Linked DNA regions of Homo sapiens: region 1 is linked to region 2. Evidence: fine-mapped expression QTL. A gene starts in region 2. The other region holds a variant in brackets. All regions are shown on one strand. Distances are from middle to middle. Region 1 overlaps CNTN4 (contactin 4). Region 2 holds the start of IL5RA (interleukin 5 receptor subunit alpha).

Region 1 (16,181 bases), 81 kb before region 2:
AAAAAACAACTTCATCACTATCTATTCCTGATGGTAAGTGAATCAATATAGCGGATTTTTATTATGTAGTCCTCAAAAGCCTCGGTCTTTCAAATCAGGGGTTTTCTATCCCATTACCTCTTTGCTGGCAGTACCTGTTGTTCACTTCTCATTTCATGGACATCACTCATTTAACAGTGACTAAAAGCACATTAATCTACTTATCATGATCTTTTCCTATTTTTAGAAAACAACAAAAGTATATCCCACTACTAGATTATAACCTATTTAGAACAGAGATTTCCCTTTTGTAACTGAGAGATTTTCTTTCTGTAGTTGGATAAAAGGATAGAAAAAATGTTTTAAATACTCTCTTTAAAGAGGAAATTTTAGCATGGGTTATCAGCAAGTAAGACTCACAAAAATTCTCCTGTCAGATATAATTACAAAATTCCCAGCGGATATTTTAATCCCAGAGGTTCCCTGAATAAATATTTATGTACCTCACAGCCTGAAATGCAATCCCGCGACTATGGGAGAGGATTAGTCAGTGTTCTTTTATTATTTGGTTTGGTTTTGGTTTGTCTTCTTTGTAATTGTTTGATTGGCTCGGTTTGGTTTAGTATGTAGAAATTTCTGGAATATGGCCTAATTCAGAATTTTATTCTTTAGGCATGTATGCGGCCTTTACATTGAATTCAAACTGCTTCTCACTAGTGTACTCTCTGACACCATTTATGAAATCATGTTGCAGAAAAATAAGGCACTATGGGTGTGAATGTAGTTTTGGAGTTCATAAACTGTCTCAGCTAAGCAAGCCCATTCTATTCCCAGTTTAAACTATAATGTAAAGGGTGAATTTTAAAGCGAATTGATGGTCCTTATTTTTAAAAAGTAATATACCTGTATCATTTTGTCAGTGATGTTCATTACAGCATTATTTATTATTTCTAATTATAAATATTAGAAAAATGTCTAATAAAATTTGCTAAAATGCCAACTAGTTTCAAAATGGTTAAAACTGTAAGCTTAAAGCAGATTATAAAATTATGTTGACAAAGGAATAAACATGCCTATACAATATTGAGGAGAAAAAGGAAAATCGTATTTGTCTCATTTTTATAATGGTGTAAAACAAAACAACTGAAAAACTGTGAACCAAAAAGACTGGGGGAAATTATACCACCATGAAAATAGATGTTTTATCTGGGTAGGATTTGTTTTTCTATTCCTTCTTTTAATTTTCCTGAATTTCCTAAATTACCTGTGCTAAAACATTTATTACTTTTACAATAGAAAAAAAGAGCCTAACAAACTTCAAATCAACATGGATTTTTCCTGTTTGCACTCAGCTGAAATGTAGCTTTCTAGTGAAACTGGAGAGAGACGAAAACCTTTTCAAAGAGGCAATTCAGAGCAGGCTGCCAGAAAGTAAGCCCTTCCACGAGCATCTTTAGAGATCTCACCTCCATGCTCCCTGGCTGAGTTCTGTTGCTCTGAGAAGGTTCACATAATGAGTGTTTTCATCTTTTCATATTAAAAATGACCTCCTGGCCTGAGTCTGAGCTTCCCAGATGACTGAGGTTTGCTGGTCACAGCCTCAGAAAAAATAAAGCAAAATTACTTAGTATTTCATCCTGCTCTTGGAGTCTACATTGTATTTCCACACAAGCTCACAGACTTTGTTGTTGTTATTGTTTGTTTTGTTTTAACTCTCCAGATCCAACAAGGGTAATGGTACCCCCTTCCAGTATGGATGTCACTGTTGGAGAGAGTATTGTTTTACCGTGCCAGGTAACGCATGATCACTCGCTAGACATCGTGTTTACTTGGTCATTTAATGGACACCTGATAGACTTTGACAGAGATGGGGACCACTTTGAAAGAGTTGGAGGGGTAAGTATTAATAGCAAAAACTGACTCAAACTAACTTGTTTAGACCAACTTAACAATATATTTAAAGTTACTATTTTAGAATTTTGTTCAAGTAATCTTATGGCAAGAAACTCTTGGTTAATTCCTGCTCCTTTTTGCACAATAAATGTGGCATCACTCATTGAACAACTCTATATGGCAGGACTGCTCCCTAACTGGCACCAATCCTACAGGTTAATTATTCATTCCTGTGTATGGATTAGAAACTAAGGCTCACAGGCATTGGATGACTTGCCTTGGCCTCATAGCTACTGAATTGTGGAACTCAGCTTAAAACTTCAAATCCCAAACTCTGTGTCACATATCATATCATATATCCTAGAATCTGACCAAGAAAATAGCTTAAGGATAGTTTCCTTCTGTTTTTAGGCTGCTAATTAAACTCCCTTTGACCTTGTAGAAGGCACGTCATTGTGAATTTAGGGTTTTCTTTCTTGAATTTGAAAGTCTGATGGGGTTATTTACTATCTCCAGGTAATTTGAATTCAAAATGATTGGATTTTCAAAATGCCTTCCTTTCCATAACGGTATATTATCATTGAACACATAACAAGAAGAGGTTAAATCTGGGAACAATTCCTATCAATCACAATCATTGTCAAAAAATTTTTTTCTGCTCTAACGCACCTCTGTGATCCCATTGACAATAAAGATGGACTCCGGCTGCCATTTTTATGATGGAGTCCAGCCAAAACATAGCGGAATACAAAAATGGGGCCCTGACTTGAAAAGCTCTCCCCACTTCCTAGGCTGCTATAAAAATCTGTCCACCCCCTTTACGTTGAGAATAAGTGGCCTAAAGTCATCCATGTGATATAGTGAGAGCATATTTTCCACCCAACTACAGTACTAGCCCTGTTCATCACAGTCTTACTACCTTTATCAAACAGGGTTTTTGCAGTTGAGTCACAGAATGCCCAAAACAATTTCAATGACTGTTGTCTCAGTTCTATGCCAAGAGTGGTATCTGATTGGTACAACTTTAGATGGCACAGGAAAGAAGTTAATTCGTTACATCAGTGGATGCCTGGGTTCACTAGGGATTATCTCTTGGGACCCTGACTGAGAAAGGCTGGATGAAATTGCCAGCGTAAACCATTCTGGACCTCTTTCACATGGTTCAGCTTAATAACTTTGGCTAAGTGAAAGAAATATTAACTACTTCACAAAGACATTGGAGATATTGAATATCCTGAGGTCTAGGAAAGTACATAGCCCAATGTCTACCACAAAAGAAGTACTTGATAAACTTTAATGGTGGTATTAATTGAAGGAAGGGTAACATTGATTGTAATAACAGGAAAGTGTAAATCGAGAACATTCTTCATAAATTAAGCAGAATGTTCTCACATTAAAACCAATTTCTTGGGCAGGAGAGATATTAAAAATGCTAAATCTCAGAATGGCGCAAGCACCAACCAATGAAAACAGATGCCCGACCAATCGAAGTGGACGTCCTACCATTCAGACACATGTAGCCTTTATGCCAGAATGGTGCCAGGGCTAAGGCAGAAACAGGGACACCTAATGAAGTCAAACACTGATGACTACCTTTTGTAAAGACAGCTGTCCGTAGAGCTGCTCACATTCATCTTTCATATGGAAAATGTCTATCTCCCCTGTTAAACTAGTGCTAACACCAATCAACTTCTGCTGAGAAATACATAGAAAATTAAGGACAGCACAACCACATGTGAGATCTAAGTGTACTAGCCACTAGGATCATTAATGTCTGTGGAGTCAGGACTTGACAATAGAAGAGATAAGCAAGCGCAATTTTGAAGTCAAGCCTATTTCAGCTTCGACTTCCTGGGTCAGCATGGTGGAAATGATGCTTGGTATAGAGTTAACCTATTGAGGTTTTATAAAAGTTATTATTTCATTGTCCTCTGATACACCCCATCCCCACCGAGTATTCTGTCAGGAACACAACAGACTGCGGTGGTGGAAAATAAGCAGATGCTGTTGTTTTCTTTGGTAGGAACATAAAAAATGTAGATCTTAGTTAATAGTTGGGTCTGGGTGACTTCAAAGGGAAAGAGAAAGTTATTGTGGTCTGCTTTGATGAGACTCTTACCTCACTCCTCACTCTATTTTTTTCTTTGTTTCAGTTTTACTTTAAAAACACAAATCCAGTCAAAATGTGTAAATAACTACAGTACTTCTGAATCGCAAAATCAAAATTTTCTATTAATAGGTTGCTGTGCTCTGAAATATCCAGGCTGCAAGTTTCTTTGACATTTAAGCCCTTCATGAATAAAGTGAATTAGATAGATGGTATAGGCATTTCCCTAAGGCCAATGTGGCTTCCCACCTTCCCTGCACGCATCCCCTGGGGCATATTTTTTATTTAAACCTGTATTCGAAGTCCCCATATGTGAAATTTCTTAGGTAAAGTATCAATAATCTTAATAATGATGATGATAATAGTGATAATTCCTGATACTTGCAAAGTGCCTAATCATTTATCGGGTACTTTCTTATATACACTTGACCCTTGAACAACACAGGTTTGAGCTGTATGGGTCTACTTATATGTGGATTTTTTTTCTACCACACTCAGATTGCAAATACAATATTCGTGGGATGTGAAATAACCCACATATATGGAAGACTGACTTGTCATATACTCGGGTTCCAGAGGGCTGACTGCAGGACTTGAGTATGTGTGGATTTTAGTGTACTACGGTCCTGAGTCCTGAGTCCAATCCCCTGTGTCTACCAAAGGATGACTGTAATAGCTCCTTAATCCTCACAGAAATCTTGTCAAATAGGTTAACAATTATTTTCCCATTTTATTGAGCAATTATAAGACTTGATCCGTAAACAGTGGCATCTGGATGAGAAGCCAAGTGTTACAAACAAAAGACGTTTTGGGTTAAAATACCATAGCTTTTCCTGAATTAGATTTAACATCTTGGACATGTCTGTTTCACAAAAAAATGGATCATGGCTGTCAGTAATACCAGTTTAGAGTTAATCTACGCTTCAAGGTTTCAGAAGATTTTCACATAACACAGATAATCTCATTTGATTTTCACAACCTAGCATGAAGGTCAATAAAGGTCTTTTGAAAGTCAGTAAATCAAGGCCAAGAGAGATTAAGAGATTTAGATGAAATCACACAGCAGGAATCAGCCCAAGACAACTAAGCACCAAAACTGTAGCTCTTCCTTCACTCCATGCTTTGGCATCTCTTCTAATCGTATTTCTAATTGGCAATTCTATCTCTTCCATTATCCTGTGAATGTGACACTCTGTACTGAAACGATGGAGATAACCAAATACATATTAATTTTGAAATAGAATGAGGATATGGTCTTTCCGGATGCTAGTCTAGTGTTACTGTTAAGAACAGGGACTATATGGGTTCAAATCCTGGCTCTGCCATTTTCTAGCTACGTGACTTTAGGCAAGACTCCTAACCTCTTTGTGCTGGAATTTCCTCATCTGTAAAATAAGGATAACAAGAATACCTGCCTCAGAGGACATGTGAGTATTTAGTGAGTTTAATATAGGTAAAGTACTTGGAAGCTGCCTGTCATATAGTAAATACCATTAAACATCATCCATTACTATTGTCATTGGAGAAATAGCAACACAAGAGTCTGTGTCAATTTCCTGTTGTATAGTTTGGAATGGGAAAATGAAGGAGGGCCAATATACCCTAAATTATCTTGTCATCCATTACGGGTTTAGAATGAAGTGTACTTTTTCAAATCTGGCCTCTAGGGTGGTCTCTTCATCAAGCAGCTATTCTCCAAACTTTGGATTAACAGGGCTATGAACCAAACTCCAAGGTGTAGCAGTGTTCTTCAGGTAAAGTGCTGCCTTTGTGATAGCCTGTGGAATCATCTCCTCACATTTATTAAAAGTACTGTGCTGGCGAATGCTGGAGAAATATTTCTGGGGCGCATAGACATCCAAACCAGGATGTAATTAGTCCCATTCTTCTGCTAATCAAACATGCATTTGGCATTTGGAAACCAAATGAGCACTGTTCCACACTAGGTGATGCGAGATTTCCTTGGAGAATCTGGTCTTCCTAATCCTTTCATTCCAACCTGGGAGCAATAACAATGCTGGCTCTAAGAAAGGGTTGAGCAATAAAATGCAGATACTTCCAAATGTGGGCTTGCTTCCGTTTTCCAAATACAGAGTTCTAAAGTATCCGAACGCCAACCAAGGCCATAGGCTGAGGGCATTTCTGAAGAAACTCACAAAACTAGATCGAGAGCCACCGTAGTACGTAGGACTTATGTAGCATGTAACTTACGTCCTTCCGACATGGGTGCCAAACTGCTCCAGAGACTCAGAGAAGCCAGACACCTGAGGTCTTGTCGAAGATGTGTTCTGAAAACGTCGGTGTTCCCATCTCTCAGGCAGGCTCACATATTTTTAACAGGCCATGGTTTGCATCACTAATGCTTTCATCAGCCAGTGTAAAATAAATCCATTAGTCACCGTGTCCTTCATGTGATAATGATATTTAGAGCTCATTAAAAAGTAATTGCAGCCACTTTCCCCTACTTTATCAGCAGGATTCAGCTGGTGATTTGATGATCCGAAACATCCAACTGAAGCATGCTGGGAAATATGTCTGCATGGTCCAAACAAGTGTGGACAGGCTATCTGCTGCTGCAGACCTGATTGTAAGAGGTACTGGATTTTGTTGTTATTGTTGTTCTTGAAATATTTTCATGATATCTACTGTAGCGCAGAGTTCCAGAAACCTCAGTGGTTTAGAATTATGGGAAAAAGTCAGGCAGAAGCTGAACATTGTAAACAGTGGCTAACAGTCCACAGAAGTTTCTGGTTCATATACAGTTCCTCAGTGCGGCTTGTCAGAAAATGCACCGAACACATCCAGTAACTTTACACTAGAAGGATAATTGAGTAAATCGAGTACCCGATTACGGCTGTTGGAGTTGATATGACCTTCTAGAACAAATTTAGGTGAACAAAAGCAGATAGTTTAAAGAGGGATTAAACTGTCCCTTTTTATGTTTCATCTGGGCCAAACTGAATTAGTATCCTAGGCCACTGGTATAACAGCAGCTTAAGTAAAGTCATCATCAGGTTTATCCGAGTTTCCTTTTTTCCCTAAACTTCACAGTGCTGTTCGGTTCCTAAAATAGGGTTTTGGGAGAGGACACTTCCTGACTGCCTGGGATGTAGTAAATGAGCTGAGAGTTGATGTAAATACTAACATTTTTGAGATTCTCTTGAATATTATCAGCATGACCTAATTTGGACCTAAGAGCTATGACCCCCCCGGCTGAGCAACACCAACTGAGTACATTCCAAGCCTCACCAAACCGGTTGGCAAAGGAACTGTAAATGGACTTTTAAGAAATATTTTTAAATGAAAATTAAAATCTTCACTAACCAGTGTACATACCAGAATCCAACCTATGCATGCTCAGGGGTTTTCTATAGCATTAAAATAGAGGCCAATCCAGACATCAAAATAATATCTTAGCTAGAATCTCCTTCATCAGAATCCCTGACTGTTGGTGTTCAGGCATCTTTGGCCGGCTGGCAGAGCGCATGGCAAAACTTCGAACGCAAGAAAATAAAAATTTAGGGTATGAGCGTTGGAGGCAGGGTTAATCTGCATGCACAGAGAACAAGGTATTATTGGAAGCCATAAAGAGTGTTGCTGTATCCTCTAGGCATAATGTAAGGGGGGAAATGTGTGGGAGTTACCAACTTAAACTGATTGTGAAGAGAGGGTTCAAGAGAAATAGCAATTCCAATGTGTCTGCTTTGTTCCCCTTTCAATTGCCTTTAAAAAAACTTTCAGCAACAGTGCAGACAAGGGCTGGAAATGAGAAAAAACTTTCAACCGAGGTAGATCTGCCCACAGAATAACTTATAGAAATGTGTTTATTTCCATTTGAAAATACACCAGGCTGGTCTGCCCTCCCCTTGGGAACAAAAGAATTCTGTTGCTGAAAATTTATCCTCTATTTAATTAGGATAATGTTCAGATCAGCAGTTAAAACACCAATAAATTAGACTAATAAATATTTAAATCAGCAATACTTGAAGTTCTTAAATGATATTGTATACTTCATTTCACAGAAAATAACATTAAATACCAGGAGGAATTTGCAAACGCAGTCTAAAAGAAAATCTAGTCTAATCAGTTAATAAGGCCAATAAATTAATGTGCCATTTAAAACCATAATCTTTCATTTTATCTCCTTCTGCTCTGCCCTTGCAGCTTTTCTTGCACATTACAGAGGGGGAGGCAGGAATGTATTTCACCACCCTGAAAGACATTTTCATATTTGAAACGTATAGCAGCTTTGAGTCTTGGCTCCAGATTCTTTGATTTTCTGAGGCCTGTTCTATTTAACCTATAGCACTGTAATGGCAGCCAGAAAGGCCACCCTTCCTGAGGGAGAAGCAGACCCCAGAATCAAACTAATCTTCCCTTTGCCATTGCCTGAAACAAAATCTTCTACATGCCCCTGAGTGTGTTATCATTTTGTTCAGAGGACAAACATTTGTACATTTTTCATTTTGAAAGAGGGAGTCCACTTCCCTAAAACAAAGTTGGTAAACATTCTGTAAGGTCGTAGCTATGCATCGGTAGGAGAGGGTGGCAGGAAGATAAAAAAA[A/G]GAACAAACAAATCCAGGAAACTACCATCTTCTCTCCAGTGTCCAAACTCATACCAGCCCTTCATTTTCTTCCTATAGAGAGGCCAACAATGGACTCAGATATTTCCTATCGATTTAATTCTTTGAAGAGTTCAGAGGGAAACACTTTTCTATTTGTGGTACTTAGATTTTAAAGGACATCAGTGCAGCATCCATTAAAAAAAATGGTGGGGAATGCTAGGATGAGAAAACTAGTGAAAAAAATTATATTGTCTTCTAGACTTTATCTGGTTAAAAGGGGTCCCAAGACCAAAGGTTACATCAGCTCTATCTAGGTGACATTAGACTGACATGCTGAAATGTCACCATGGAAAATTAATCAGTTCCAGCATACAGATTTCCAGACATTTCATTCAGGAGTGGGAGGGAGAAGATAAATTTAGTCTCACCTGTGGGTCTATAAAAGTGATTTTTAAAAAAGGAAAGGGAATTTAGGGCATCACGTAAACGGTGAAGGAGTGAATCCTAGAACAAAGGCTAACTTCAGGAAATTGCTGTTAATTTTGCACTGCTCTGTGAGAGGTTTCTTTTTTCCCTGTCCCTGTGACATGGCCTGATAGTATTTGGGTAGTACATTTGATTGCTAGACTGGGGATTAGCAAATCCTTCCTAGGAACATCTCCTTATGCCCGTCTAATGGGCATGAGGTTTGTCATTATGTCCCCTCACCATCACCTTCCCTCCTGAGGTGGTCAATTGTACCTTGTTAAAAATGCATTTAACTGCCTGGTAAGAGATTTTCATGTTGGAAAGTGGGATAGCTGCGGGTCTTTGCTCTGGCTCTGTTGATATTTTGTCTTTACCTGCCAGCTGCTTTCCATCCCTCTATTTCTTTATTAGTTTCAAGCCTTCATTTAAATCTGATTTCCTCCCCTTTCCATGGTTTAAGTACATGGACAGAAACAACGAACATCAGGAAGAGAAGTAGAAAAATACGGGTATGAGTTGCAGAAACTACAGATGAGGGTCTTTAGTATCTAGCCTAATTTTGAAATTGCTTTGAAGAAGGGAGCGCCTTGACTCTTGCGCACCGGCCATTTTCACAGCAGTTCCCTTGCACGCAAGTGTGTGCTCACGTGGGAAGCAGGGTTGGATGTGAAGAGAGTGCTAGTAATTACAGTGCAGCAGAATGTGCAGAGCAACACTGTAACCTTCAAAGTTTTAAAGCCATTTGTGCTTAAATCTATATTCTCAGTGGTAGAAATAACCATTTCCAGCAGACTATACTCTTTATGAAATCAGGAGCAATATCTATCTTTTCTCACTACCGTATCCTCAAATAACACTGTCTGACCCATATTAGGAACCTATAAATAAATAATGAATTAATGAATGTGGGCTCTTATGGTACCCCAATACTCTCTATTAACATTAAGTATTCAGTTGTAATTATTTGTTTACCTATTAGTTTTTCATATTAAACTGTGGGCCCCTAGAAGGAAGGGGCTGTGTTTCATTCACCTCTGTGGTTTCCAAGCCCAGGAAAGTTCCAAGCACGTAGTAGGAGTTCAAAAAGGATTTGACAAGTGATGAATCTGTGAATGGGTAGATAAATGAATGGGTCAATGCCCCATTCAAGTATGTGGCTCCTTTACTTGGGTGTTTGAATACACTGCTCCAATTCTGGGGGTCTTGCTCTTTCCCAGGTCCTCCAGGTCCCCCAGAGGCTGTGACAATAGACGAAATCACAGATACCACTGCTCAGCTCTCCTGGAGACCCGGGCCTGACAACCACAGCCCCATCACCATGTATGTCATTCAAGCCAGGACTCCATTCTCCGTGGGCTGGCAAGCAGTCAGTACAGGTACCATATTGGATGCTTGGCTCAGAGACATTGGGAACTCAGCATACTGGACACAGCACTGTGGCAAGGAACGTCTAAGTTCTCATTCAGACACTACTACAAATGATATATTATGGCAGTGTTTCCTAAACCTCGGCCAACTGTACTATCATTAATATTTTTCTTTATATCAAATCACAGTTGGGTTTTTTTAAACTCATCCTAAGCAATAGTATCTGTGAAATGGTAATGTCCAGGCCAGATTTGGTGGCTCACGCCTGCAATCCCAGCACTGTGGGAGGTAGAGTTGGATGGATCGCGTGAGCCCAGGAGTTCCAGACCAGCCTGGGCAACATGGCAAAACCCCCTCTCTACAAAATATACAAAAATTAGCCTGGCATGGTGGTGCGTGCCTGCAGTCCTAGCAACTCAGGAGGCTGAGGTGGGAGGATTGCTTGAGCCCAGGAGGTAGAGGTTGCAGTGAGCCAAGATCACACCACTGAACTCCAGCCTGGGTGACAGTGAGACTCCGTCTCAAAAAAAAAAAAAAAAAAAGTCTGTTGTGCTGGTTGTATATGTATTTTCCGTAACACACATTAAAAATATATTAGTTATAAAAATAAAATGCATCAATCTGTATTACCTAAAATCATCTGTGTAGCACTGTGGTTCACTTTGGAAAGCAGCGGATTCTGCCTGACTATAGTCACTTAATAGTCACAGACTTCATAAAGTTTACACAGTGCTCTCAAAAACCAATAACAGAGGATTATAGGGAGCCTCTTCACTTGCTGCTGTGTTTTTTGAGACAGGGTCTCACTCTGTCACCCAGGCTGGAGTGCAGTGGTACAATCACAGCACACTGCAGCCTCGACCTCCTGGGCTCAAGCAATCTTCCCACCTCAGCCTGTTGAGTAGCTGAGACCACAGGCGCAGGCCCCCACACCCAGCTAATTCTCTAAAATTTTTTGTAGAGACAGGTCTTGCTATGTTGCTTAGGCTGGTCTCAAACTCCTGCGCTCAAGCAATTCTCCATCAGCCTCCCAAATTGCTGGGATTTCAGGCGTGAGCCACTGTGTCCAGCCCCATTTTTTTAGATGGATAAATTTGGGGATAAAAAGACATGAGATTTCTTTTTAACCAATTTTACAAATTCTTAAAAAAAAAAAAAACATTGTTAGCAGCAACACTTCCATCCTGTTTCCCTTTATTACATGTATACAGCACTTCCTATTTTTTAAAAGTTTCACAGTTATTTCTCTTTGCATGTAAAAGAATTCTTATACCAACCCCACTCTGTCAGTACCTCCAAATTGACTCATTTTCTTATTTAGATTTCATTTAAGGATAAATTGGATGAACAAGTAGTTATTACAAACAAAGATACACACTCCTCTAGACAGCAAAAGTAGGCTATATGGCCTTGATGTTTTGAAGGAGAATATGCCCAGTGTTGAGCAATTCATATAAATCTTGTTGATTTTAACCCATTTGTTTTTTTCACTTTAGTTTACTAATCCTTAGAAATGGGTTTCTGTGTTTCCTTCTGTAATCACTGAGTCACAGGTGTGCTTTAAGAAGGAAATATGAGAAAAATATAGAAGTTAGGAGATGAATTCTAGACCTGACTGCTAATCAGCTGATCTCTATACATCTTCATTTTCCTCTTCTGTTAAATGGGCACAATAAGAATTGTTTAAGAATGAATATAGGCCAGGCGCAGTGGCTCACAACTGTCATCCCAGCACTTTGATAGGCCAAGGCGGGTGGATCGCTTGAGCCCAGGAGTTTGAGAGCAGTCTGGGAAATGAGGCGAAATCCCGTCTCTACTAAAAATACAAAAAAAAAATAGACAGGCATAGTGGCATGCACCTGTAGTCCCTGCTACTCAGGAGGCTGAGGCACAAGAATTGCATGAGTCTGGGAGGTGGAGGTTGCAGTGAGCCGAGATTGTGCCACTGCACTCTACCCTGGGCATCAGAGAGAGAGAGAGAGAGACCCTGTCTCAAAAAAAGAAAAAAAAAAAGAAAAGAAAAAAAGAATATAATACTTTTACCTTTCTCAGAGGATAGTTGAAATAGTGTGTCTGGCACTATACAATAAATGCGGAAACACATGTGAAGGGGTGATAGTAATGATTGAGTCAGGTAGTTTGGGGTCTTGTGGACTGTGTGTCTTTTATGATGTCATCTGCTGGTATCTGATTAGAGTGTGTTAGTTTAACATACAGAGATAGTTCTGAGATTACCTCACTGAAACAACTGTTGATGCAGCTAATATCAGAACACCTACACTGCCCTGAATACAATAATGATGAGGATGGATGGATGTTCCTATCTTCCTAACGTAATCTCTGCATTTGTTTTCTGAGAACCTATGAAACAGCCCCCACCTTTTGTTGTCTTTCAGTCCCAGAACTCATTGATGGGAAGACATTCACAGCGACCGTGGTGGGTTTGAACCCTTGGGTTGAATATGAATTCCGCACAGTTGCAGCCAACGTGATTGGGATTGGGGAGCCCAGCCGCCCCTCAGAGAAACGGAGAACAGAAGAAGCTCGTGAGTAGCACCCGAGATTCAGATCATCTGTTCTGCCAGCTGCTGTTCCTTAGGAAAAGCGTTTGAATTCTTGCTGCTCTTCAGCGCTCATGCGGCTCTGTGTTAGCTCACCCTTCCCTTTAAATGTTTATAATGATAGAAATCAGGCCAGGAGAAGCCCAGCTGAACACGCAACGGGTTTCAATCAAGAGTTGTTTTCTTCATTAGGTCCACTTGTACAGCAAGAGACACACGGTGCTTAGTCCTCTCAAAAGCCAGCCCTTTCTTCATTGGTTCATTTGTCACCAAGATTCTAACAGAATTTCAAAAAAAAATCCCACATTTCAAATAAAATTATCTCACATAAGTAACTAATGGCAAAGAATAATTTGTGACTGCTCTGGACACAGCCACCATGGGGTAATCCTGTTTAGAATAGAAATAAAAAATAATTTCTTCAGAAATGTTCACTTAGATTATCTTTCTTAGGGTATAAACCATTCCCAGAAACGAAGATTCAGAACATCGTGCTCATTCGAACAAGACCAGTCAGCAATTCAGTATGGCCCTCTGCATATGCAGCTTGAATGAGCACGGGGAGAGAAGAACAAGTTCATCAGGGTCAGCCGTACTTTTACTTAGCTGGTGTAAAGCAAGAGGCCTACATGTGCCGTCTTTTATAGAGTTCCCGCCTGTAGAGAGGCCAGTGTGTTGAAGGAATAATAAGGTCCCTACACAAATAGGAGTTCTGACCCTACTCTCAGAAAAGCAAAAACTCATCTAGATCTATTTGATTGGCTTTAACCAAGGAGACATACCCAGTCACCAGCCACATACCCCAGTGAGACCTTTTTAAATGTGGCCCGGAGCCTTTCAGTTACGTGATGACAATATAGCTAGTCCCCTGCTTTCTTTTCCCCTTCCAAAACCATAATTGAATTAATTCCCCTCAGCAATCCTGAGGTGGAAGCTCGCATAATTTCCTCTCTTTTATAGAGAAAACTGGTGATCAAAGAGGTTAAGCTCAGTGAGCCGGGGGTCAACTTCTGTCTGCCACTTCCTTCAACACTCAGATCAAAACTCTTCCTCCCAGAAGCCATTCGCCCACCCCAGCTCTGAGCAGGGCGCTACTCCGGAACGCCCCCCGCTTCTCCATGCTGACTGTTCCTTACCCTGGTTGTCGACCTTGCTCTAACTGGTGCAGGCGCTCCTCCACTCCAACCAGCTTGTAAGCTCTGCCTGGGCAGAGCTTGTACTCTTCCCTTTGTGTATCTCCACGTGGCTCATAAACGCATAACCAAACATTAGGACCAGACTTCAGTCCTTTCCTCCCTTCGGGAACCCCTCGGCCTCTAGGGATGGAGCTGAACAATTGGTCAGACGTGTCAGATAACACGTGTGCCTTGTTGAATGGGAAACAGGTAATTAATAGCAGTCTCCTTGGTACATTTCACTTCCTCGAGCGGTCGCCGTGGGCCCCTTGACAATGCTGTTGCTGATCTCCAGAGACAAAGGGGCGTGCCTCAGAGTACTCACTGAAAGTGAGTCACCTCTGCCAGGCAACCTTCCTGGCCCTCATTCGCCTTTGCCGCCTGACATAACTTGTTTTTTGTCTCCTTGTGCAGTCCCCGAAGTCACACCAGCGAATGTCAGTGGTGGCGGAGGCAGCAAATCTGAACTGGTTATAACCTGGGAGGTAAATGAATCACAGAATAAAAGGAACGTACACGCATCGAAGCTATTTTATTATTTTCCTCCATGTTAGACATAGCTGGGAAGTTTCCTCCTCTGTTTTTAACAGTGAAAATTCATTTGGGTTCAGACACTCCCTCTCACGTAGCTAATGGCTAGCAGGAAGGACGGCACTTGCCCATCCATTGTTGAGGCAAGTTTTAATTCAATCCATCACAGTAAAAACAATTATGAAGGGAAGACAACACACGTTACAAAAAAAAATAAAGAAGGCTGTTTCAGAGAAAACTAGTTTTTCTTTTCTTCCTGAATTGCTGCATGGCCAATTGATTTAAAACGTCTGCCAGCAATAGATTCAGTGCACCAGCACAATTTCCTGGCAATTGGCTTTGCTTCTAGAAGGGGCCCTCTTTTAGGAGGTATTTTTTAAAACAACCTGGAGGAAAGTTAGTCACCAATTTATTAAAAATTGGCTTTGAGAGAAGAGGTGGGAGCTTTAGAAAGGGTTCTTCATGTTTTTGAAAGATTCTAAACAGCCCCAGAAATTAAAATCTCTCATTTACCCAAAGCACAGCAGTGAAAGAAATCACTCATCCCTCCAGCTGAACTCTTCCCTCTGAGAGGGAGGATCTTCAGCCAAGATGGTTTTTCTTCCTTCAGTGAGATCTTTTGTCTATTTGGCAATGGAAGAAGATTAGTATTAGAGGATACGTGTTGGAAATGTGGTTTTTCAGGAGACCGATGTCCAGTGTTTTTTTTTTTACAATCATTTCCAACCATTTCAGAGCTGGGTCTGCCCCATCAAAGAGCAAGCTCTGGACTGCAGATCCTCATTACGTTTTCAACCCTGTCCAGTACATCATAACTGTTTAAGATAGACTGACTGCAAGCCCTAAATTTAAAAGACTGTTAACAAAACGCCAAATAAGATGGGTGGAGAAGGATGTAGACAAGAATGTTACAAGGGAAACAAAAACGATTTTTGCATTTGAGTGAAACTACTGTGATTTCTGAAGACCACCTTCCTTCTTTCCCAGACGGTCCCTGAGGAATTACAGAATGGTCGAGGCTTTGGTTATGTGGTGGCCTTCCGGCCCTACGGTAAAATGATCTGGATGCTGACAGTGCTGGCCTCAGCTGATGCCTCTAGATACGTGTTCAGGAATGAGAGCGTGCACCCCTTCTCTCCCTTTGAGGTTAAAGTAGGTGTCTTCAACAACAAAGGAGAAGGCCCTTTCAGTCCCACCACGGTGGTGTATTCTGCAGAAGAAGGTATCGTTTATGCTGCCTAGATCATTGACTGTTAATATTTCTTCAATTCTAAAATGTGGATTGTAGCACGTACAATCAATTTCGCATGGTACATGTATCTTGAAGGCATACCTGATTTGAGAAGAGGATAATGTAAACAATTTGGTTCGCTGTCCACCATGAATCTCTTGAAAAGATAGCGACTGCTCTGTATATGAAAACACTTGGCTGTCCATTATTGATTCCATTGCTAAGGACCAGAATTGCAAATACCATATAAGATCTTCATATCTATCTATATGTTATCATTACTTTCAAAAGAATTTTATTTTT
Region 2 (16,181 bases):
GATAACCCAGTGTGAACACACACAAAAGTCTCGGCATCCTGTTCTACATGTCAAAGAGGAGAGTCGGTGATCTCTTTCTGGGAACTGTAGATGAGAAGTCTTGAGTTTTTCTTCTGCACATTTTGAAAGGCATATTTCATAAGAACTTAACTTTCAAGGGCAAATAACACGCATGGCTTCCCCCTGTGTTGTCCTCACTTTTACAAAGGAGTTCTTCCTACTCTCTTACCACGTGCTCCCCCCAGAGATTTGGTACCAGACACATGTGGCTGTTATACATGATGGAAATCCCTTCCATGGACGTTATTCCTACCCATGAAGGAAAGGAGTCTGAAAGCTGAAATAATCTGCCAAAGATCAAACAGCTGTTAAGTAATGGAGCCTAGACCCAATCTCTGATCTTCCAATGGCAAAACCTATGCTCTGTCAACTTTATGGTACTAATTACAATGATTTATAATTTCATTTAAAACATTTATTTAAGTGGCTTGGTATTTTCCAAATATAATTCCAGTAGAACCACAGGAGAGACCTGGGCTAAATGAATACCTCCAGGAAATAGCACAGAACACTCTTAACTTCATTATTACTTCTTAAATTATTACTTAAGTTGCTACAATTACTGCTGAACTTACTAATGAAATTGGTAAAATGCCAAAACAGCAGGAAAGGATCGGCATATAAATCACTCAATTCCTTGTCAAATAAGCTTAAGTACTGTTAATCAGAAGTATGCCAGTTTTGATTTTAAAATCCTGTTTATTTTTCTCTGAGGATTTCACACCATGTAGAAATTAAAAAAAAAATGAAACGATGACGATGACAACAAAAGCAGGTACTCTATAATTTTTTTAAAATTTTCAACAAGTGAGAATTTTAATGAATTAAGGGAAAACACTAGTAATCTACTAAGCCTGAGAAGCAAAGATAAAAATTCCTTAAGAACAGCAACAAAGATAGCTTCCTCTTTAAGTTATGAAGGTGATTTCTTAAAATGTCAGCATTTCCTGAAATAATATTAAATATGCTCTGATTTTGCACTAATTTTCAATAATAGGAATTCTAGGTCAGAAAAAACTGCAAAATTAATATTTCTTTGTGACTTTCACTGACTGGCAAAGTAAAACTATGTTATAAATGTACTTGTAAAAGCAATAAACATGTATTTATCCTTTGCAATTAAATTGTTGAAGTAAATGATAAAACTGTTGAATATCTCAGTGGAGAGATAATTGAATATTTTATATGAGCAAGCACTCTCCCCTAGAATTTGTCATGTATTCTGATTTTATAGCTGCTAAAAATAGAATTGTTTTTCAAATTTAATCATTCAAAAAATTTTTGATTATTAGTTTTTGGCCATAAATAAATAGACAGCTTTTTCATGTCTCATTGTCATATTTAAAAAGAGGTGCTTTTGAACAAAATCAGTTGTCCTATAGGCAGCACAAGGTACTCAGTAGGGGTCTAAATATTAAAAAGAATGACATTTTTTTTTTTTTGTGAGTCAGATAAATTTTACATAAGGTTGAATAGTACTAGAGCTTCAGGATTTGATACCATGTTTTCTACAATTCTGCTCACTCTCTGTGGCCCCTTAATACTTCTTGTCCCTGCTTAAAACAACAACAACAACAGCAACAACAAATCTCTTCAGGCCATTTCTTTAATCCAAAGATACACTGTTATGTAGATGTCAACTGGGTCATATTTCACTATAAAAGAATAGAGCGACTTCATTAGCTTAAACATATATATCGACAATATGTTCGACTCATTCTTCTCATGGCTACCAATTAAAATCTAGCAGAAAACCATTAAATTGTTAAAATAAGATGCAAACTAAGCAGAATGAAGCAACTATAGGTTGTTTATCTATCACCAGGAAGACATGCTCAATCTTTAAGAGAAATCATGATCTCATGATCTACTTGCTCATATAACATTTCATTGAGTCAATCTAAAATTCCTCAAGTGCTCTCTAAAAATCTAGTTTCTGATAGGTGTTACATTTTTTGAAATTTTGGAGAAAACAACCACAGTCTCCTTCCCTATAGGTGTTTCTAGGAAGTTTGGTAAAATTTTGACAATTAGCAGTGGATTTCCCCAGCGTTCTTGAGAACTGGTCAAATTCTACTGAAGTTCAGACTTACAAATATTTTCCCCTCTTTTTTTTCCCAACTTATTTTTCTGCCTGGGGCGTTCGTTTTATAACCAAAGTTATACTGGCACCCCTGTTTTTAAAACCTTTTTGAGTCAACTGTGGTAACACCTAATTCCAGACTCAACCTTAGTGGCAGAAATTGTAAAGCAACTGAGAGGATTCATGCTCTGGTAGGCTTTTAAATATGAAGAGTTTACTTTCTCTTTTATCCTGTACAGTATAATCAGCAATAAAAGTTATCTCTTGGGGGATGAAGAATAAACCAAGGTATAAACTGCAAAAGACATGTTTACCTAGGTATATTGCATTACCCCCCAATGAAAAACTGCACATTCCTAAATATATAAATGAATAATAAGGACCACTTATCATGCATGCAATTTTTTTTTACTACTACTGTACTTTTGATTAAATTTCTGAAATAGTCCTAAAATAGAACTCATGAGTTCAGGTTGTGGCTGTAAACATAAAACTCTCTGTCAGTCCAAGTGGAAATGGTGTTGCCACCTTGAGTATTTGGAAAAATAGAAGAAAGAGTTTGCTACAAATATCCCAGTAGCAAAATATTTCCTGCCAATTGCACATGGTGCAATTTGTCATCTCACATCCATGCTCCTGGGCGTACCTGTCTACAGACGATCCTCTTGTTCCGACCAGTACTCAACAGAAGATGGCGAGGACCGTGTCTGTCGTGTCTATGCTCGTGGCTGCAACCCCAGCATCTAGCATAGCGTCAGGCACAGGACCAATGCTCAATGTGCCTGGCCCTGTGTGGAATAGAAGCAAATTAGTGCACAGCCCTAATGTGCAATGTGCGGTGAAACCTAACAGAGGAATGAGTTAGGTCAGGAGAGCAGCAGGCTGGGGAGTGTGTAACAAGCCTGGCCCACTTTTGGTATTTTGCCTAAAAATTTCCCATGCGGTGTTTCAAATAATATAAACAAATGAGGTGATTTAACTTCTAAAACTTTATTTTGCTTTGAAATGCAAACTTTTAACAAATAGCTACATAAATTCCTTTTTCGATAACCATGAAAGAGGACATATTCACTTAAAATAGAAATCATGCCAGGTAATAAAATGTTCAGTATGGTAATTCATTAAAGCAAGTACTAAGTACATTATTCACATGGCTATAAAAGCACCATCACTTTTCATGTGTTTATTAATTTTAGGCTCAAGGGTATTAAAATATTCTCGCTCTGTCTCTCCTTTTTCCCCCTTTTTTTTGGTTCCATTTCATCCTTTTTTCTGTCTACATGGAAATATGCTTACCTTGCTTTAGGTAAATACATTAGTGAACACAAAACCAAGTGACATATTTCAGCAAATTTGGGTACATTTTATATACAATGAAACAATCTTGGAAATCCAAGAACCCCTACCAGAAAGAAAAAGCAGAACGCCTCCTTCAGTTAGATAAAGTGCCTCTCTCTACTTTTTGTTGTTGTTTCTTTATTTGTAGATTTCTTGCTTAACTCTGAAACTTCCTGAGATATTTTATTAAACCCTATACCCTATTTTGGAAGCTCATTTATTTTCTAAGAAATCTTGGCAGAATATATGTTCTCATTTTAATTGCATAATTATCTGGAGCGGTGGAAAACAGATGTCTTATATTGATGTAAGCACTAACAAAACCATAGGTGTTGTTTTCATATGACTCACCTTGCCACGGATTTGCACATCTCACTTACTGAGCCAAAACACAAGAATAGAAGGTTATACCCAGAATCAACATGACCTGCCTAATGATGCAAGTTTAATGGGACCATTATTAGTTCTGTCCCTGCTAATAATAATAGAATTATAAGGAGTTTTGTTTCCCCTTTTTGTTGTTTACAAGTTTGTCATATATTTAGAAGTCATTGTTTCTTGCTTTTCCTAACCCTCCTCCCCACCCTGGGTGTAGTGAAATTATTAGGAGGTGGAGCACAGGGTATTGTTACAGCCCATGTCATAGAAAAAAGATATTTATTTGCTTACTCTGTGGTGAGTGAAGCATTTGATTCCCACTTACTGAGAAATGCGGTGGCCATGCGATGAGAAGCAGCGGCAGGGCATTGAGAACGAACCTTATCTCTGGGTGCACTTTTTAACTTAGAGGCGGTTCTTCACTCTTTCATCATCACGGCTGTAATGGTTAAAAACTCTCAGGCAGCTTCCTTCATGATGGGATGGCAACACGTTTTCTCTAAGCAAATATGGAGGAGGATTTGTACAGAGCAACTGTGCAGGAGCTGAACTGGAACTCCCAACAACCAAACTGCTGTCAAACGAAAGAATCTCTCGTCCAGATAGCCATTATCTGATAACTGTCTTGTCTGCATTTTCACTCTCTTTCAGAGTTGGTTTGCTCTCTTCAGGAGTGGGAATTAACTTTTACTCATGGTGACAAGGTAAACAAGTTTTCCGTGGGTACTCTAAAGCGTTGCATTTCTGTTTTGTTTATGTGCCTTGTTTGGCTACAGTAGTTACTGTGCCTCTGTCTCCTAGGCAACACTGACACATGATTTGATAGGAAGTAAGGCCTGAGGAGTACCCTCTCCCCACTCACTAGGCAATAGCAGCAATTCTCTGCCCTTAGAGAACCGCCTTAGCTCTTCTCTGCTTTGTGAGCAGGTCTGGTACCCTCAAGTAAATATGTGTGGGGGATGCGTTTCTGGGTGTGATAAATTGCTGCTGTCTGTCACCTGAGATCATCCTACACAAATTGTAACAATGGCAGTGTTGGTCTGTGGGTGCACCCAAGACCACCTTCCTCACGTCACATCCATTTTACCACCCAGCTGTCTTCAGAATGCTTCAATTTCAGCAAACCTCCTTGGCTTTTCCTGTCCTTTGTTCCATTTCTGTTTGATTCCTTCTGGGGAATTTCGAGGTGGCTAGCTAGCAAAGCTGGCTTTAAAAAAGTAGCTTAGCGTGTGAATAGATAAGAGTAGTGCTTATTGTATGACCCACGGCAGAGAGTAGTAAGTAGTTGCCTTTGGAAGGAGACCTTCAGTCTAGCCTAAGCGATGAGTGATGCAGGATTCCCTGTCTCCTTAGGAGCTGACTGGGAGAGTCTCAGACAGAGCAGATGCAGAAAGATGGTGGCCCAGGTTGGATCAGTGGTTCTGTTTGTGAGATGAGAGACAGGCTTCCTGGAGGCAATTTCCAAAAGGCTCAGTGTAGAAGCTGTGCAAGTACAGTCAGCGTGTGTGCCTGGGGTTCCCAAGGTGACCATTTTAGCAGTTGCCAAAATGAAACCGGAGCAATTGTTATCAGGTTGAAAATTGTTGTCAGACCTGAAAAATGTGATTTTCCTCGGGGAAAGGGGAAGTAAAACAAGGAACAGAGAGAGATCCATTTATTTGCTAAGAGGCACCCAGAAAAGTTTAGATATAGTATCAACTATCTGGCCTACTCTTTTAAGTCCTGCCCATCTGTTTATACATGTAACATATTTGTCACTAATGAAACCTTAAAAATACTTATTAATCATTGGGAAGACAGTAATTTCTGGCTTAAAAGCCTGCTTTAATGGCCTCTCTCCGTATATATATATGTATATTTTTTGAGATGAAGTCTCACTCTGTCGCCCAGGCTGGAGTGCAGTGGCGCAATCTCTGCTCACTGCAACCTCTGCCTCCCAGGTTCAAGCGATTCTCTTGCCTCAGCCTCCCGAGTAGTTGGGATTACAGGCACCCGCCACCACGCCTGGCTAATTTTTTGTATTTTTGGTAGAGATGGGGTTTCACCATGTTGGCCAGGCTTGTCTCAAATTCCTGACCTCAAGTGATGCACCCGCCTTGGCCTCTTAAAGTTCTGGGATTACAGGTGTGAGCCACCACACTCAGCCAATGGTCTGTATATTTCTTACATTCATTTACTCAAATATTCATTGAATGCACCTATGCACTATGCTAGGCGCGGTGAAGGGTATAAAGAAAATTAGATCTGGCTGCTCCTTCCATACCACCTTCCTGGGTATATGATCTTTAATTAACTACGCCAATAAAAACAAACAAACAAACAAAGCAAACACATGCTCATACAGAAACACTGTCTCTATGTTTCTGTATAAGCACAAACGAAAAAATGAGAGGCAGGGACTTTTTTTTTTTCTGGCGGGGGGTTGCGGGGGGGTTGTTTGTTTGTTTTGAGATGGAATTTCAGTCTTGTTGCCTAGGCTGGAGTGCAATGGCGCGATCTCAGCTCACCACAACCTCCACCTCCCGGGTTCAACCGATTCTCCTGCCTCAGCCTCCTGAGTAGCTGGGATTACAGGCCCCCGCCACCACACCCAGCTAATTTTTTTGTATTTTTAGTAGAGATGGGGTTTCACCACGCTGGTCAGTCTGGTCTTGAACTCCTGACAGGTGATCCACCCACCTCGGCCTCCCAAAGTGCTGGGATTACAGACGTGAGCCACTGAGCGAGGCCTGTTTGGTTTTTTATGGCAATAATTTAATTCTTTATAATAAAGTGTAAACGTCCAAAGACAGTATGATAGAACATGCTGGAAGAATTCACAAAAGTCGTTTTTTTAAAAAGTGAAATTAAATGTGTCTGCATCCTTTAAGCAAAACAATGTGAGTTTAGCCAAATAGAAATATGAATAGTAATAAAACGAAAATCATGGTTCAGTGGCTCTACCATGAACTTTGGTTAAAGGAGCTTATTAAAGGTATCAACTTCTAGAACTTGATTCCATGGAAATAATGGAAAAATGTAGATCAAGATTTATACAAAAGAGAGCAAAATTCATTGTACCTTTACAATAGTAAAATAGTAAAAGTACTATAGGAATGGTGAAGAGAAATATGTAACTGCTCAAGGTTGAAATATGTGATGTGGATGTCAAAAGGAATGTTTATCAATAACTTTTTTTTTTCTTTTGAGACAGGGTGGTGCCCTGTCACCCAGGCTGGAGTGCAGTGGCAGGATCTCGGCTCACTGCAGTCTCTGCCTCCTGGGTTCAAGTGATTCTCGTGCCTTAGCCCCCGGAGTAGCTGGGATTGCAGGCATGTGCCACCATGCCAGATAATTTTTGTATTTTTAGTAGGGAGAGGGTTTCACCATGTTGGCCAGGGTGGTCTCAAACTCCTGGCTTGTGATCCTCCCACCTTGGCCTCCCAAAGTGCTGGGATTACAGGTATGAGCCAATCAAGAACTTTTAATAACATAGGGTATTATGAAAAAATGTTAAGTAAAAACAACAGGAGGGTATACACACATGTAATTTTTTTTTACAGTCTTATTTTTGGTCAGAAGATCAGACTAACAGGAATAGTTATCTCTAAGTGGTAGGTGTATTAGTCAGCTATTGCTACAGAACAAGCAACCACAGAACCCTCAGTGGTAAACTGTGATAGGCATGTATTTGTAGCCCATGTGTCTGAGTTTTGACTGGGGTCTGCTTAATCTTGGGCTGGGATCCAGATCACAAAGTGAGTTCAGATTTGTTCCAAGTATCTGCCATTCATTTGGAACCAGTGGCTACCCAGGGCATAATCTTTTTATGGTGACAGCAAAAGTGCAAGAGAGCAGGACCAACTGCACAAGCACGCATCAAGCATCTGCTCATGTCACATTCCCTGACATCTCAAGAGGCTGAGCAAATTGCATGGCCAAGCCCGGAGTCAAATGGACGAAGCCCAAAGTACATTCCACCATGATAAGGCCATGATAAGGATGTGGACATGGACAACTCCTAGTGGGGAGTGAAGAAATGGGACCAACAGTTCATTCTACCACGGCAGGGTTAGTGTTTCTCTTACTTTTATTCTGTGTTTCTATATTTACAAACGTTTTATTCTGTACAAATGCAGGCAGAAAAAGTTATTTTAAAAAATATTAGAGACATACAGATCAATTTAATAGAATTGAGAGTCAAAAATAAACTCTCGCATTTAGGGTCAATTGATTTTTGACAAGAGTGTCAAGACAATTCAGCGGGGAAAAGATCAGCCTTTCAATAAGTGGTGCATATCCACATGCAAAAGAATGCCTCGCAGCATAGACAAAAATGAATTCCAATGGGATCAAAGACCTAAAAGTAAGAGGCAAAACTATAAAATTCTTAGAAGAAAACATAGGCATAAATCTTCATGACCTTCATTTTGTTTCTTTCTTTTTTTTTTTTTTTTTTTTTGAGACAGAATCTTACTCTGTCGCCTAGGCTGGAGTGCAGTGGTATGATCTCAGCTCACTGCCAACTCCCCTGCCTCCTGGATTCATGCGATTCTCCTGCCTCAGCCTCCCGAGAAGTTGGGATTACAGGCGTGTGCCACCACACCCGGCTAAGTTTTATATTTTTACTAGAGATGGGGTTTTGCCATGTTGGCCAGGCTGGTCTCGAACTCCTGATCTCAGGTGATCCACCCACCTTGGCCTCCCAAAGAGCTGGGATTACAGGCATGAGCCGCCGCACCTACCCAATGGTTTCTTCAATAAGATACAAAAGCAGACACAACAAAAGAAAAAAATAGATAAACTGGATTTCACCAAAATTAAAAGCTTTTGTGCTTCAAAGGATACCATGAAGAAAGTGAAAAAAGACCGGATGCAGTGGCTCACGTCTCTAATCCCAGCACTTTGGGAAGCCAAGGTAGGCAGATCACCTGAGGTCAGGAGTTTAAGACCAGCCTGACCAGCATGGTGAAACCCTGTCTCTACTAAAAAACACAAAAATTAGCCAGGTGTGGTGGCAGGTGCCTGTAATCCCAGCTACTCAAAGGCTGAGACAGGAGAATGGCTTGAACTCGGGAGGCGAAGGTTGCAGTGAGCTGAGATCGTGCCACTGCACTCCAGCCTGGTCAACAGAGCAAGACTCTGTCTGAAATAAAATAAAATAAAATACAAGGAAGTGAAAAGACAAGCCACAGCATGGGAAAAATATTTGCAAAGACATATCTGACAAGGAACTTTTATTTAGAATATGTCAAAAACTCTTAAAACCAAACAATAAAAAGAAAAATAACCCACTTTAGCCTGTAATACCAGCACTTTGGGAGGTTGAGGTGGGAGGATAGCTTGAGCCCAGGAGTTTGAGGCTCTGGTGAGTCGTGTTCGTGCCACTGTACTCCAGTCTGGGTGACAGAGCAAGACCTTTCTCAAAAAACGAAAGAAAGATAGAAAGAAAAAAGTAAAATAACCCAGTTTAAGCATGGGATAAAGAATTTGAACAGACATATCTCCAGAGAAGATGTACCAACAGCAAAGGTGCCTAGGAACATCTGCTCCATATCATTAGCTATTGGAAATGCAAATGAAAACCACACTGAGATACCTCTTCACACCCACTCCAATGGCTGAAATGAAAAGGACAATAACAACTGTTGATGAAGATGTGGAAACACTGGAACCCTCACATACTGTTGCTGGGGAGGTAAAGTGAGGTGGCCAATTTGGAAAACAGCCTGGCAGTTCGTCAAAAGGTTAAATGTGGAGTTCCCATACGACTGAGTAATTGCATTCCTAGGCAAATACCCACCCAAGAGAGTTAAAATCATGTGTCTACATAAAAATTTATATGTGAATATTCACAGAAGAATTAGTTATAATGGCCAAAGAGTGAAAACAGCCCAAATGTCCAGCAACTGATGAATGGATAAAGAATATGTGGTATATCCATGCCGTGAAATATTATTCAGCCATCAAAAGAAGCACTGATACTACAACATGGATGAACCTTGAACACATGAAGCTAAGTAAAAGAAGTCAGTCACAAAAGATCACACACTGCATGATTCCACTTATATGAAATGTCCAGGATAAGCAAATCTATAGAGATAGAAAATAGATTCATGGTTGCCTAGGGCTGCCGGGGGATGGAGGGAGTTTGGGAAAAATAAGAAGTTACTGCTAATGGGTATGAGATTTTCTTCTGGGATAACACAAATATTTTAAATTGATTGTATTGATGGTTTCCAACTCTGTGAATATATTACAACCATTGACTTGTACGCTTTGAATAGGTGAATTTTATGATATGTAAGTTATATCTCAATAAAACTGTCATTAAAAAATACCCTAGCAGGATTAGATACCCTCAAAGGATTGAAACAGAATTCTGGGTAATCGTTAGAAAAATTCTAGTGTAAAATCAATCTGTTGAGTTATCCCATGTAGCTAAAATTAAAAGCATATCTTTATTCAGTAAAGAATTTCAGTAGCTTAAGCTTTTTTCAGTTCTTTAGTCCTTTTTTCAGTTCTTTAGTCAGAGACCAGTTCTTTGCTCTGAAAACCAGATACAGGAAATCAACCAGAATGTGTAAAAACAATAGCAAAAACTACACAATTAAACTTCTTCTTCTTATTATTATTATTATTATTTTGAGATGGAGTCTCTTTCTGTCACCCAGGCTGGAGTGCAGTGGTACGATCTAGGCTCACTGCAACTTCTGCCTTCTGAGTTCAAGCTATTCTCCTGCCTCAGCCTCCTGAGTAGCCAGGACTACAGGTGTGCGCCACTACGCCCGGCTATTTTTTTTTTTTGTATTTTTTAGTACAGATGGGGTTTCGCCATGTTGGCAAGGCTGCTCTCGAACTCCTGACCTCAGGTGGTCTGCCCACCTCGGCCTCCCAAAGTGCTGGGATTACAGGCATGAGCCACCACACCTGGGCTAAACTTATGTTGTTAATGTAGATTAATGTCCCATTTCAGTCAAAAGAGAAGCTACCATGTTCCTGGGACTGTCAGTTGCCTTATACACACGATCACATCACAGCTCTATAAACCTCTTTTACAGATGAGTATACTGAGGCTTAGAGAATTTACATAGCACAGACTCTTTGTGATGCTCTCCAAATTCACATTGCCTAGAATGTCAAAACCTTAATTCCATGATTGTCATAATTATTATTTTCACAAAACAGTACAATTGTTTAACTTGGACTGTCTGATTTGATGGTGGTGAGTGTGGAGTTCCTCTTGAGAAACTCCTGATTATTTCAGAATAAGTCTGAATGTGATGTTATTTGGGAAGATCACTCTCTCTCTTGTCTTTCCCTCAAGTGTGCATTAAACTGCTGCTTGTATTTGTCTATTTAACATTATATATATATATATGTTATATATATATATTTATATATATATGTTATATATATATATTTATATATATATGTTATATATATAAAATATGTAATTTTTTTGAGGGTCTCACTCTGTCTCCCAGGCTGGAGTGCAGCGGTGCAATCATGACTCACTGCAGTTCGAACTCCTGCACTCAAGCGATTCTCCTGCTTCAGCCCTCCAAGTAGTTACGACTACAAGCGCACACCACCATGCCAGGATAATTTTTGTATTTTTTGTAGAGAGAAGATTTCGTCATATTGCCCAGGCTGGTCTCGAACTCCTAAGCTCAAGTGATAAACCCGCGTTGGCCTCCCAAAGTGCTGAGATTACAGGCATGAGCCACCATGCCTGGCCTCATTTAAATTTTATATCATACCAAATATTATGTTTATATCTCTGTCTCCACCACAGAGATGGCCAGGTGCAAGTCTCATACCTCCGATCTGAATGTAGATTAGACAATAGGTCTTTATTTTATCGAGCTTGGTTTTGCCAGAATTCATCCTAGTATCCAGCACACAGAGGAGGTCCTCGTGCTTTAAGGAAAGAGGGTTTCTGTTTTTGTAAAAGGGAATTCCATTTGAACCTATATTTTGAAGGTAAAAAATGCAATGGAGAACATCACAAGGAAACTGAATTAGGCTCCTCTTGATTCTGATCTGAGGCTGCTGATAATTCAGAATTTTGAAGGTGATTATTCTCAGTCTTTACCCTTGGGCCTTTGTTCTTTTAACTATTATTGAAGTCTCATCTTTTAAAATTAATGACCCGGTATGACATTTCAGAGCAGCTAAAATTGATTTGTCTATTTACTTACCTCTTTTAAAAGTAAAATAAAATTGCATTTGTGTGTAAAATCCCCCAGCACCAATGAAAATTGCGATTCTACATTTGCTGAGAAATATCTTTATTTGTCCTCTGGGAGATCTTAAACTTTAGTTGCCTTCTATTAAACTTTTATGAGAACAAAACTAGCAAATGACTTTTTCCCCAAACAGGTACTTTTGGTTGTTTCAAAGAAAGAATACATTCTTGAAACAGAACTTGTTCTTTTAAACAAATTACTCAGTGTCACTTACAATGAAAAGTGAGGGTGGGGAGGGGTGTGAATAAATTGCACAATATTAAAATTAGGTCATATTTATGTTTTTTCTGACTTGTCTAAATATTGCCTCAAATATCTTCCCCAGGAGGCCTAAAGTGCTATAATTTAAGTTTTTTGCAGAGACAGAGTTACACTATGTTACCCAGGTTAGTCTCAAACTCCTGGGCTCAAATGATCCTCCTGCTTCAGCCTCCTTAAATGCTAGGATTACAGGTGTGAGCCACTGTGCCCAGCCTAACCCATATTTTTATGGAAAGCATTATTTTCCCTTCACTGTCCTTTTTTATTTATTTTTGAGTTGGAATCTTGCTAGGTTGCTGAGGCTGGAGTGCAGTAGTACAATCATGGCTCACTGCGGCCTCAATCTCCTGGGCTCAAGTGACCCTCCCACCTTAGCCTCCCAAGGAGCTGGGACTACAGGCTTGTGCCACCGCACTTCGCTGCTTTTTTTAAAAAAATCTATTTTTAGTAGAGACAAGGTCTGGCCATGTTCCTGGTGCTGGTCTCTAATTCCTTAGCTCAAGTGATCCTCCAACTTTGGCCTCCCAAAGTGCTGGGATTGCAGGTGTGAGCCACTGCACCCAGCCTAATTCCTATTTTTATGGAAAGCATTATTCTTCCTTCTCTGTCCTATTTTAAAATATAAGTGCACTGGGAACAGTGATATGTTAGGGAAGGCTGATGTGGAGGGGACAGTCCTAGAGTAATTGCTGGTGGGCAGTGGCGAACTCCATCAGTAAGGTCTCACCCTGCTATTTGATGGGTCTACCTCTACTCGGCTGTGGGTTTTCATTTGAAATCGAACTACCTGTGGCTCATGCCTGTAATCCCAGCACTTTGGGAGGCTGAGGCAGGCGGATCACCTGAGGTCAGTAGTTGCAGACCAGCCTGGCCAACATGGTGAAACCTCGTCTCTACTAAAAATACAAAAATTAGTGGGGCGTGTTGGTGGGCACCTGTAATTCCAGCTACTCTGGAGGCTGATGCAGGAGAAACGCTTAAACTCGGGAGGCAGAGTTTGCAGTGAGCTGAGATTGCACCACTGCACTCCAGCCTGGGCGACAGAGTGAAACTCCATCTTAAAAAAAAAAAAAAGTAAAATAAAAAATTAAATGAATAAATGAAATTGAACTACCTGCCTAAAACCCAGAAAGGTGGGTGGGGCTGGGGGGAATAGAAAGAGTATTCAGCATTGAGGCTGATGCAGTTAATGCTAAGTCGAGCCATCAATTCTTTGTGACATCATTTTCCTTGATAGTCCTGTTATCTTTTCATCCACTAAGTTACTAAAGCACAGGCTCGGAGGTTGTGGTAGGCAGCCCTGTGGACCCATTTTAGACTTCTGACCTCCAGGACTGTGAGATGATACACCAATGTGGTTTTAAGCCTTGAAGTCTGTGGTAATTTGTCACAGCAGCCATAGGAAATGAATGCAGGGGTCTTTCCTCATGTCTCATTCCACTCCACCCTCACCGCCTTCCAGTTTGACTCTAGCATTCACTCAGTTCTCTTCCCCACTGTGGCAACGTGCTGGCCCACCCTCCTGGGCATAACTGCCCCAGCCTCTTGCTTGGGCTCTCCAACCCATTTTCATGCTGCAGTCTGCCTGATGGCAGGAAACCACAGATAGGTTTATGAAAACCCCTGCTTTGAAAAACCTTTAATATCTTGCTATTGCCATTAAAATTAAATCCAGATGTCATCCCGAGAAGCACCCAGCACTGCATGCTCTAGTCCCTGCCGTCTTCTCCAGCCTTATCAGTGTTCAATGGTGGTTTTGAGGCAGAATATCTGGCTCCAAATTCTGCTTGTGCCACTTACTCTCTGTAGGACCTTAGACAAATAAACCTCTCTATGCCTCAGTTTCCTCTTCTATACAGTACCTAATTGGATGTTTGTGAAGATTAAACAAATTAATCAAAATAAAATGCCTGGCACTATTCTAAACACAATACCATTGGTAGGTAGCCTTATTCTTACTGTATTACCCATGCCACTGGCAAATTGTGAGCACTGAAACCTCTGGTGAATGAATGAATGCATAAATGAATGGAAGTAATGTTACATTCACAACTTCTCTGTGTGTACCATTGCTTCTCTCTCTAGTGTGCAGAATGAATCAGTGTCACAGACACATAGTCAAAATTTAGATAAGCCAAGAGACAATTGAACACTGGGGAGCCACATTTTGGCTACTAGATGTACAAAGAACGGATCTAAGATCTGGTTTACTATGAAGAAAGATGGAAGCTCTTTGAGGCAATTGCTAAACTCTTGAGGGCATCTCTAGTAAGCACTGAAGGACACTCGAACCAGTGTTCAGACCTAACATTGGTGTATCTAAGAAATATTGATATATACTTCTAAGCTGTTCTTATCTTACTTTTCTGATTTTTTTTTTTTTTTTTTGAGACAGAGTCTCACTCTATTGCCCAGGCTGGAGTGCAGTGGTGGGATCTTGGCTCACTGCAACCTCCACCTCCCACGTTTGAGCGACTCTCTTGCTTCAGCCTCCCGAGTAGCTGGGATTTCAGTCATGTGCCATCAGGCCCAGATAGTTTTTGTATTATTATTCTTTTTTTTAGTAGAAACAGAGTTTCACCAAGTTGGCCAGGCTGGTCTCAAACTCCTGGCCTCAAGTGATCTGCATGTCTCAGCCTCCCAAATTGAGCCACCACTCCTGGCCTCCTGAATTTATTTAATAATGTGTAGCCTTCTAACTGAAGAGTAATATTCATGACTGTGGTGTTTCCACAGAAAGGTATAAACTTGCCAGATGCTAACAGCACTCCCTGTCTATGGTATTTACTTTTGGGTATGTTCTACAGAGAGAGAATATTTCCAGTAGGATTTCTGTGCAGTAAATGTCAGTTCCTTTGCAGATAAAGTTTTATTTCCTTTAGGATGGGTCTATATTAAGAGATAATAGAAAACGTCTTGTGTGGGAGAGAGGAGTTTGAGACCGCTTTGGTTGTCTTCACCATGTCCTAAGGGGTTGAACTGGGCATTCTGTCCAGAGTTCTTTCACCCTTTAGTTTAATGACCTCAAAGTTCTGTCCTGCTTTCATAGGTACATACTTCAATAATTGAATTTTCATGTTCTTAATTTTTTTTGCTAATATATAAAAATGTAATTACTTTTGGGGGGAGGCTTATTGAGGTATAATTTATAAGCAGGAAAGTTTACCTTTTAAATGTACTTGGTATGGTTTGGGTGTGTGTCCCCATTCAAATCTCTCATCAAATTGTAATCTCCAATATTGGAGGTGGGGCCTGGTGGGAAGTGACTGGATCATGGGGGTGGATTTCCCCATCAGTGCTGTTCTTCTCATAGTGAGTTGCAGTGAGATCTGGCAATTTAAAAGTGTGCAGTACCTCCCCACCACTCCTTTTTCCCACTCTGGCCATGTAAGAGGAGCCTACTTCCCCTTCACCTTCCACCATGTCTGCAAGTTTCCTGAGGCGTCCCCAACCATGAGCCGACCGAACGAACCATGAGCCAATTAAACCTCTTTTTTTTTTTTTTTTGAGACGGAGTGTTGCTCTGTCACCCAGGCTGGAGTGCAGTGGCGCGATCTCGGCGATCTCGGCTCACTGCAAACTCCGCCTCCCGGGTTCACCCCATTCTCCTGCCTCAGCCTCCCGAGCAGCTGCGATTACAGGCGCCCGCCACCACACCCGACTATTTTTTTGTATTTTTAGTAGAGACGGGGTTTCACCGTGTTAGCCAAGATGGTCTCGATCTCCTGACCTCGTGATCCACCCGCCTCGGCCTCCCAAAGTGCTGGGATTACAGGCTTGAGCCACCGCACCTGGCCTTAAACCTCTTTTCTTTATAAATTACCCAGTCG

What was found. PIP is the estimated chance that this variant, and not a neighbour inherited with it, causes the effect.
Region 1: its variant is fine-mapped to the expression of IL5RA in whole blood (TOPMed, PIP 0.94).

What each region holds. Positions count from the first base shown.
Region 1 is chr3:3,024,403-3,040,583 of GRCh38, forward strand. It overlaps CNTN4 (contactin 4), which reads left to right. Exons shown (of 25, transcript NM_175607.3): 15 at 1,700-1,875; 16 at 6,453-6,573; 17 at 10,230-10,388; 18 at 12,777-12,926; 19 at 14,531-14,601; 20 at 15,635-15,869. It overlaps CNTN4-AS1 (CNTN4 antisense RNA 1), which reads right to left. Exons shown (of 4, transcript NR_046554.1): 4 at 15,259-15,980. Among named protein-coding and RNA genes, the nearest start is that of CNTN4-AS1, 29 kb to the right of the region's middle. RefSeq lists enhancers at 6,194-6,363, 13,711-14,910, 14,145-14,254. The variant A/G (reference allele first, on the strand shown) is at 8,545.
Region 2 is chr3:3,105,761-3,121,941 of GRCh38, forward strand. It overlaps IL5RA (interleukin 5 receptor subunit alpha), which reads right to left and starts at 4,614. Exons shown (of 12, transcript NM_175726.4): 1 at 4,185-4,614; 2 at 2,790-2,931. RefSeq lists a silencer at 3,780-3,899 and an enhancer at 3,980-4,059.